2 linked regions of the Homo sapiens genome follow. The protein of the gene in region 2 purifies or fractionates together with the protein of the main gene of each other region. This does not show direct contact. Each region holds a gene or a part of one and is shown on either strand. Other genes may lie near its edges. The genes, in order: GCKR and DNHD1.

Region 1 (3,661 bases), on a different chromosome or scaffold from region 2:
CCTGAGTATCTATTACCTGGATATTTCTCAGGCACAAGGAGGAACCAGCTCTCTACTGTCAGGGCCATATATCACAGGCCCTAAAGAGCTGGCATGAATCTAGGATGAACAAGGGTGTCTTTGATTTGTCAAAACATGGGGTAGCTGATGTCTAAAATGTACAGCCCGGGGTTTCTAGTGTTTGTTGGGTCCCACCACCAAGGGCTTTCAGCACCTCCAGAGTTCCTTATGTTCCTCTTACAAACACGGGGCAGGGGATGTGACCCTCATTTCATGGTCTAATGCGTGGATGTAGCAGTCATTCTAGATCTTGTCATGTCTGATTAAGACTGCCCTTTTTCTGGGTTTCCTATGTTAGGTACACAACTTCTTCCCTCTTCCCCTGGAATTATCTAAAAGTTCCCACCTCTCATTGTGTGTCTGTGTGGGATTGGAGTGTGTGTGCACGCATGCACACGTGGCTGCATGTTGGTAATGAAAATATAGGGATGCCAGTATAAGGCTTGTGTTAGGGACCAATGAAATGGAGTTGGGGACAGAATTAAAGAAACAAATCTGCTGTTAAGACCAACCCATGCCACCCATCCTATCCCACCTCTGATCTACTGTTTGATTTACTGACTTTGAAAGGTTAACTTTCCAAAATAAGACATTTCATTTTATTTCTGAAATCAGAATAAGTCGGTGAGAGTAGAAACCACTAGGTCGAGAGCAAGAACTCTCCCCCAAAGTGGAGAGAATATTTCTCCCTACCCTGGGCTGCGGATGCCCTGGAAACGGGGCTTCTTCCTCCCACATGTTCTGCTGGCACAAGTCCCCTTGGGCGGGCTGGGCTGAAGTGGGCAGGGTTGGGCCCCTTTCACCCACCCAGAAACATGGGTTCACTGAACGTCAGGCTCTAGGATCTCGAGGGGGTCCGCAGTGCGCTTCTGACCTGGCCCAGCAAGAGCACTCCTGACAGCCTCACAGACAGAAGGAGCTGCAGCCAGGTGTGCCTGAGCCTCAGTGATCGAGCACCGGAATAGGAGGCTCAGCAAGGCGATGGGTATCACCTGTGGGGAAGAGGCAGTGGGCACTGAAGCCTGAGGGAATGAGGTCATCAGAGAAAGAACCCCGGAGGAAGGTCGGGCGCAGTGGCTCACGCCTGTAATCCCAGCACTTTGGGAGGCCGAGGTGGGCAGATCACTTAAGTTCAGGAGTTTGAGACAAGCCTGGCCAATATGGCGAAACCCCATCTCTACTAAAAATACAAAAATTAGCCAGGCATTGGTGGCTGGCACCTGTAATCCCAGCTATTTGGGAGGCTGAAGCAAGAGAATCTCTTGAACCCGGGGGCAGAGGTTGCAGTGAGCCGAGATCGCGCCACTGCACTCCAGCAGCCTGGGTGACAGAGCAAGACTCTCTCTCAAAAAAAAAAAAAAAACAGAACCCTGGAGGAGTTAAAGCATTTGATACAGGAATCAGGAGCCACTAGGTTAGATGCAAATAGGATGTTATTAAGATTAGAAGGTGGTAACAAGGTGGATTAAGAGCAGAAAGAAACCTTCACTTTGACCAGGAAAACTCCTATTCATCCTTCAAAACCCAGTCCAAAGACCCCATGAATGTGGAGGTCCTTGTGAGCAGAGTGCCACTGAGCTTTGTAAACCCAGTGCCGAACAAACTTCCTGACACACTGAAAGTACTCAAAAAGTATTTGTTGAATGACCAGCAGTGGGCAGGATACCTGTTCCTTCTCATGTGCAACCTGGACATGGCAGGAGATGGGAGCAGCCCGAATATCATCTGACAGTGGCTGGGGAAAGTGGATCGCTCGGAGGAGGCTCTCGATGCATCGAGCCTTGGACTGTCCAGAGAACCGCTAAGGAAGAAGTGGTAAGATCAGTGTCAGGCTAAAGGCCAGAGGAACTAAGAATGGAGTCAAGGGAGAAGAATAAACTATGAGAGTGAGAGGCTGGGATCCCGAGGCCTGGCTATAGAGGCTGTAGATGATTTGTCCATGTTGGCAATCCTAAATTGTAATTCCCAGGTGTAAAGAAAAACTAGGTTAAAGGGGTTGGTGGTGGGCTTGACTGGCTGGGTTAAACTGGAGGATTAATGGCAAATTGCTCAAATTTGCATGTGTGTCCCACCAATCCTGTAGGTTGGTAATCTGGACTCCCTCTCTCTAGTTTCCTCTGTAACCAAATCCATCTTGCACACTAATGTAAGACTGTTCATCTGCAAACACTGCTTCCATTTTGTCACTACCCTCCTCTCTGTCTAGCTCAGCATTGTCCAGTAGAAATATAATGCAAGGCTGGGCACAGTGGGTCACACCTGTAATCCCAGCACTTTGGGAGGTCAAAACAGGAGGATTACTTGAGCCCAGGAGTTCGAGACCAGCCTAGGCAACACAGCAAGACCCCATCTCTACAAAAAATAAAACAAATTAGCTGGGCATGGTGGCACCTGCCTATCGTCCCAGCTACTCAGGAGGCTGAGGTGGGAGGATTGCCTGAGCTCAGGAGTTTGAGGCTGTAGTGAGCCGGATGGTGCCAATGCACTGCCCTCCAGCCTGGGTAACAGCGTGAGACCCTGTCTCTAAAAAAAATAAAAATAAAGAAAAAAATATAATGCAAACCACATATGTAAGTTTAAGTTTTCAGTAGCTGCATTAAAAAAAGAAATAGGTGAAATTGGCCAGGCACAGCAGCTCACACCTGTAATCCCAGCACTTTGAGAGGCTGAGGCAGGTGGATCACAAGGTCAGGAGTTGGAGACCAGCCTGGCCAATATGGTGAAATCCCGTCTCTACTAAAAATACAAAAAAAAAAAAAAAAATTAGCTGGGTGTGGTGGCGCATGCCTGTAATCCCAGCTACTCAGGAGGCTGAGGCAGGAGGATCACTTGAACCCAGGAGGTGGAGGTTGCAGTGAGCCGAGATCATGCCACTGCACTCCAGCCTGGGTGACAGAGTGAGACTCCATCTCAAAAAAAAAAAAAATGTGATTTCACCTATTTCTCCTGACCTTGTGATCTGCCCGCTTTGGCCTCCCAAAGTGCTGGGATTACAGGTGTAAGCCACCACACCTGGCCTGAAATCAATTTTAATAATATATTTTATTTAACCCAATATATAACCCAATGTAAACAATATTAAACATTATTAGTCAGATATTTTGCAATATTTTTCTATATTCGGATTTTGTATTTTGAAATCCAGTGTGTATTTTGCAACTAGAGCACACCTCAATTTGTTTTTTTGTGGCTTTTTTTAATTTTAATTTTATTTTTTGAGAGATAGTCTCACTCTGTCACCTAGGCTGGAGTGCAGTGGCACTATCTTGGCTCACTGAAACCTCCACCTCCCAGATTCAAGCTATTCTCCTGCCTCAGCCTCCCTAGTAGACAGGACTATAGGCCTGTGCCAACATGCCCGGCTATTTTTTTATTTTTTTTATTTTTAGTAGAGACGGGGTTTCACCATGTTGGCCAGGCTGGTCTCGAACTCCTGACCTCAAGTGATCTGCCTGCTTCGGCCTCCCAGAATGCTGGGATTACAGGCGTGAGCCACCGTGCCCAGCCAGCCCACCTCAATTTGGGTGCTAGATTTGCAATGCTAAAAAGAGAAATGTAGTCCTACCAAAATATTAAAGTTACATTTAATTTAAAAAGTATA
Region 2 (3,815 bases):
AGAAGATGCAATAGTCTTAAGACTCTGTAGGGGGCTTTTGGGGATTATGTGAGGTGAACCCAAGTGATACTTGAGTTGGCGGACCCAGTGAAAGTCTGTGAGATCACTGACCTGGTGCTGTTCCAGCAGCTGTGCTATATCCCGGTGAGTCACTGCCATGACCAGCAGGGCACTGAGAAGGCTGGTCTGGCGGACAGAAGGCAGGGACTGCCCACCTTGGGAAGCCCTCTGGGCCCGCATAAAATTCACCAGTACCTCAAGCTTGCGCATATGCATGGAGACCATGGCCAGGGTACCCCACTCAAGCAGAGCCTCCTCCATCTCGGCCCGCCATACCACCTCCTCTGCCACCAGCACACACTGCCATGGGAAGGCCTGGACTAAGTCGATCCAGTGCTGGACATACAGTTGCAGGTACAACTTGTTTTGCTTGGGCAGTTGCTTGAGGGCCTCACCTAGAGATGGGCCTCGAGCAAGGCGAGCAGCCACACAGCCCTGCAGCATGTGCACCAGTGCCAAGCGCAGACACTTCTCCAGAGAGGCCAGCCACTTAGGGAGATCTGGATGCAGAGGAAGGGGACCCTGCAGCTTCACCTCCTCCCCACCTGCCCCTAGCACTGCAAGTGCCTCCACCTGAGTCTGTGTGTTTGGGCTTGACTCCCAGTCATCTGTGTTTTTCTCACCAGTTGGGCAAGACCTGAAGCTCACAGCATGCACATGAGGAAAGCAGCGTCGTACCCATAGCTGGGCTTCGCATGATTCCAGTCGAGCAGCCAGCAGGGCTACCAGCTCACTGTCACTAAGGAAGAAGAGGCGGGGGAAGTGAGCACACACCCCATAGAGCACGCTCTCCAGACTCATGATGATGCCCTCCAGCTCCACCGATCCTGCTTGCAGCAGTTGTTGCAGCTGCTGGCCTTGGAAGTAAGGGCTCCTCTCGGCACTGGGCACTACAAGTGACAGAACCATGGGGTCAGCTACAGAGATGCGCATCAGGGTTCGATACTGGTCATCCATGACCTTGAAACGAGAGTTCTGTGGTGAGGGAGAGGATAAAAGTGAGGGCCAATATGAAGTGGCAGCTCCCCTTTCCCACGCTGAGCCCTGCTATTCAGGAACCCTTCTTGCCCTCTCTGCCTCAACCCCCTTCCCTACCAGGTCAGCATTAGGAAACTGGATCTTCATCTCATGCAGAACTTTATTCAGAAAAATCCACTTCTGCTGGAAAGTCAGCCACACCTCCAGCAGGGCACCTGTGTAAGCAGCCAGAGGAATGCTGGTGGGAAACACTAGGGTTCTACCTTCTGCAGGGGAGTCCACCCTGCTCCTGACCTCTCAGGTACCCCACCAGCCCAAGCAAAATACTCTGCCCAGCAGGACTCAGGGAACTTGCTTGAGGGAGAAAAAACTTTCACTGTGAATAAAAACCTGATCTCTTCATCCCAAGAAACAGCCCTGAAGGAGGTCCTCACTGTGTTCTTCATATCTTCTCCCACCCAACCTCCACCTCTCACCCCCATCCCTCTGGGACATCCTGCCTCAGGTCTCACCCATCAGCCTGGCTAGAGGCCTGCACTTACCCAGGCCATGCATGATGGCCACCCACTCCAAAGCTATTTTGTTTAAATCTCCTGACTTTTCGATGGCCAAGATCTTGGACAACACCTGAAGACTTTCCTGGATGGAATCCTGCAGGTTGCTGTAATCTAAGACAGAAAAAGCTGAACTGGCAGTCAGATGAGGCAAGGGCCGGGGCTGGGGGAGAGAAGAGGAGACCAGGGGAACCTTCCAGGAGAGGCAGTTACAGAGACCCTGATGCCCTTTCTGTCTTTTTCTTTCCCTTTTTTTTTTTTTTTTTTTTTTTTTTTGAGACAGAGTCTCGCTTTGTTGCCCAGGCTAGAGTGCAATGGCACGATCTCAGCTCACTGTACTATGCTTCCTGGGTTCAAGCAATTCACCTGCCTCAGCCTCCTGAGTAGCTGGGATTACAGGTGTGTGCCACCATGTCCGGCTAATTTTTTGTATGTTTAGTAGAGACGGGGTTTCACCATGTTCATCAGGCTGGTCTCGAACTCCCAACCTCAGGTGATCCACCCACCTCAGCCTCCCAAAGTGCTAGGATTACAGGTGTAAGCCACCATGCCCAGCTGCCCTTTCTGCCTTTAAGGATTCCATCAGCCAATATGTAGAGCCAGTAAAGCACTGGGGTCTCAAAATGGTGAGAGAAGAAGCTCCTCCTTTCCCAAGGCACTGTGGGCAGACTCCAGGCCAGCTAATTTCCCTGACTAGCTGCTATGAGTATCCACGTAACTCCATGGAAGTGCTTTGTAAGAACTAGAGCCTCTAGCCCGGGAAGAGGGCTGAATGGCTCCAGGACCCTACGTAATATTTCTATAGCAAGAATGCCCATTCTGTCTTAAAACGGGTCTTGGTAGAGAAGCTGAGAACAAACTTTTCTCTCATAGTCTTAGTGCTTGGCTCCCTGGTGCTGCTTAAAGAGTTATCCCTTCATGCCACAAGTGCTTGGTAAGACTAGGGCTGGAAATGAGGTAGGGACACTAATTGGGGTAAAAATGAGAAGAATCAAGAAAGGAGGTTTATTCAGACACATGTAGGACTCTCCAAACATCCCTGGTGGGAAGAAAACTCATTATCCTGCTCTCAGAGTCACACAACTTCTACTCCACTCTCTAGAGAAAACAGCACTGGACTAATGCTTTCAGCCCCTCTGTCTATCTTCTTCCCTTACTCTTCCCCATGTGAGGAGGCAAAGAGGCCCATCTTTTATGCTCTATGGGATATGAGGCAGGCCACAGTCCTCTACACAGCTACCTGTGTAACTGTACTTCAGCTTTTCTCTGCATATCCACACAGACCTCAAGTTCTCAATTAATTGGGGGAAGATTATGACGAGGTAGCACGAAGTCTCACTTGACCTAGATCCAAGCTGTGTCTGCCAACATGATACATAAAAAGCACAAACTTCCTTGGGGGTGATGGTTCTGATAGTATACTTTCATTTTCATATATATCCTTGTCCTCATTTGGTTAAGAATCTAAAGGGGAGATTAATAATTTGTAGGTGTGCCCAATCCTGTAACAACCTGTCTTCTTGAGGTAAGAATTAAATATATAACAAGTCCATCATTTGGGGTTTATTTGGGTGAACGAAGTCACCAGCTTCATGGTGTGTGGCCACTACAAAGATGTGGTCCTTGGTTAACATGCCCGGAGTTAACAGGAAAAGAAAGCCTGGTACAGAGAAAGGAGAGAACCCATAGGGAGAAACCTCAACCACACAAGTGCTTGGTGCAAATGCTAGCTTAGAGAGAGAAGGGAAAACTGAAAAGGAGCAAAGGTGGAGGAAGGGCTGTGAGCTCAGGAAAGACTGGTAGGACCCAGGCTGGTATCTGAAATTATGCCCACAGGCATCCCAAGGCCCACATTATCCAGAGCCTTTACTTTGTATTACGAATTTTTATTTATTACTTTTAGTAGCAGAGAAATCTAAGGATGAGGCAGAAAAGTGGTAGAGATCAAGTAGGAGCAGACTGGCAAAGTGTGGAACCAGGGTCAGAGATGGGCAAATGGATTAGCATAAAATGTGCTCAGGACAAAAGTGGGAAGACAATCTCCTTTCAATCTTGGTGCAAATGTTAACTGCAGACATCCAGCCTTTGTGTCAGTCCACACCAAAACTTAAGAGTCCTTAATAAGGGCGATGTGAACAAGGGGGCTGGGTGCCATTTATCAATGTGCTGCAAATGGCTGGAAAAGGCACCCCTCACCAAATACTGGATATAAAGAGGTGATAA

What was found.
Region 1: the proteins of DNHD1 (region 2) and GCKR purify together in Homo sapiens (affinity purification with mass spectrometry; one large-scale study listed by BioGRID and IntAct). This does not show direct contact.

What each region holds. Positions count from the first base shown.
Region 1 is NC_000002.12:27,520,660-27,524,320, reverse strand, and holds the end of GCKR (glucokinase regulatory protein), read right to left. Parts: intron 1,862-3,661; coding exon 1,727-1,861; intron 1,053-1,726; coding exon 882-1,052; 3' UTR 637-881; downstream 1-636. UniProt on the Homo sapiens protein: Regulates glucokinase (GCK) by forming an inactive complex with this enzyme. Acts by promoting GCK recruitment to the nucleus, possibly to provide a reserve of GCK that can be quickly released in the cytoplasm after a meal.
Region 2 is NC_000011.10:6,542,012-6,545,826, reverse strand, and holds part of DNHD1 (dynein heavy chain domain-containing protein 1), read right to left. Parts: intron 1,707-3,815; coding exon 1,581-1,706; intron 1,254-1,580; coding exon 1,156-1,253; intron 1,036-1,155; coding exon 1-1,035. UniProt on the Homo sapiens protein: Essential for the normal assembly and function of sperm flagella axonemes.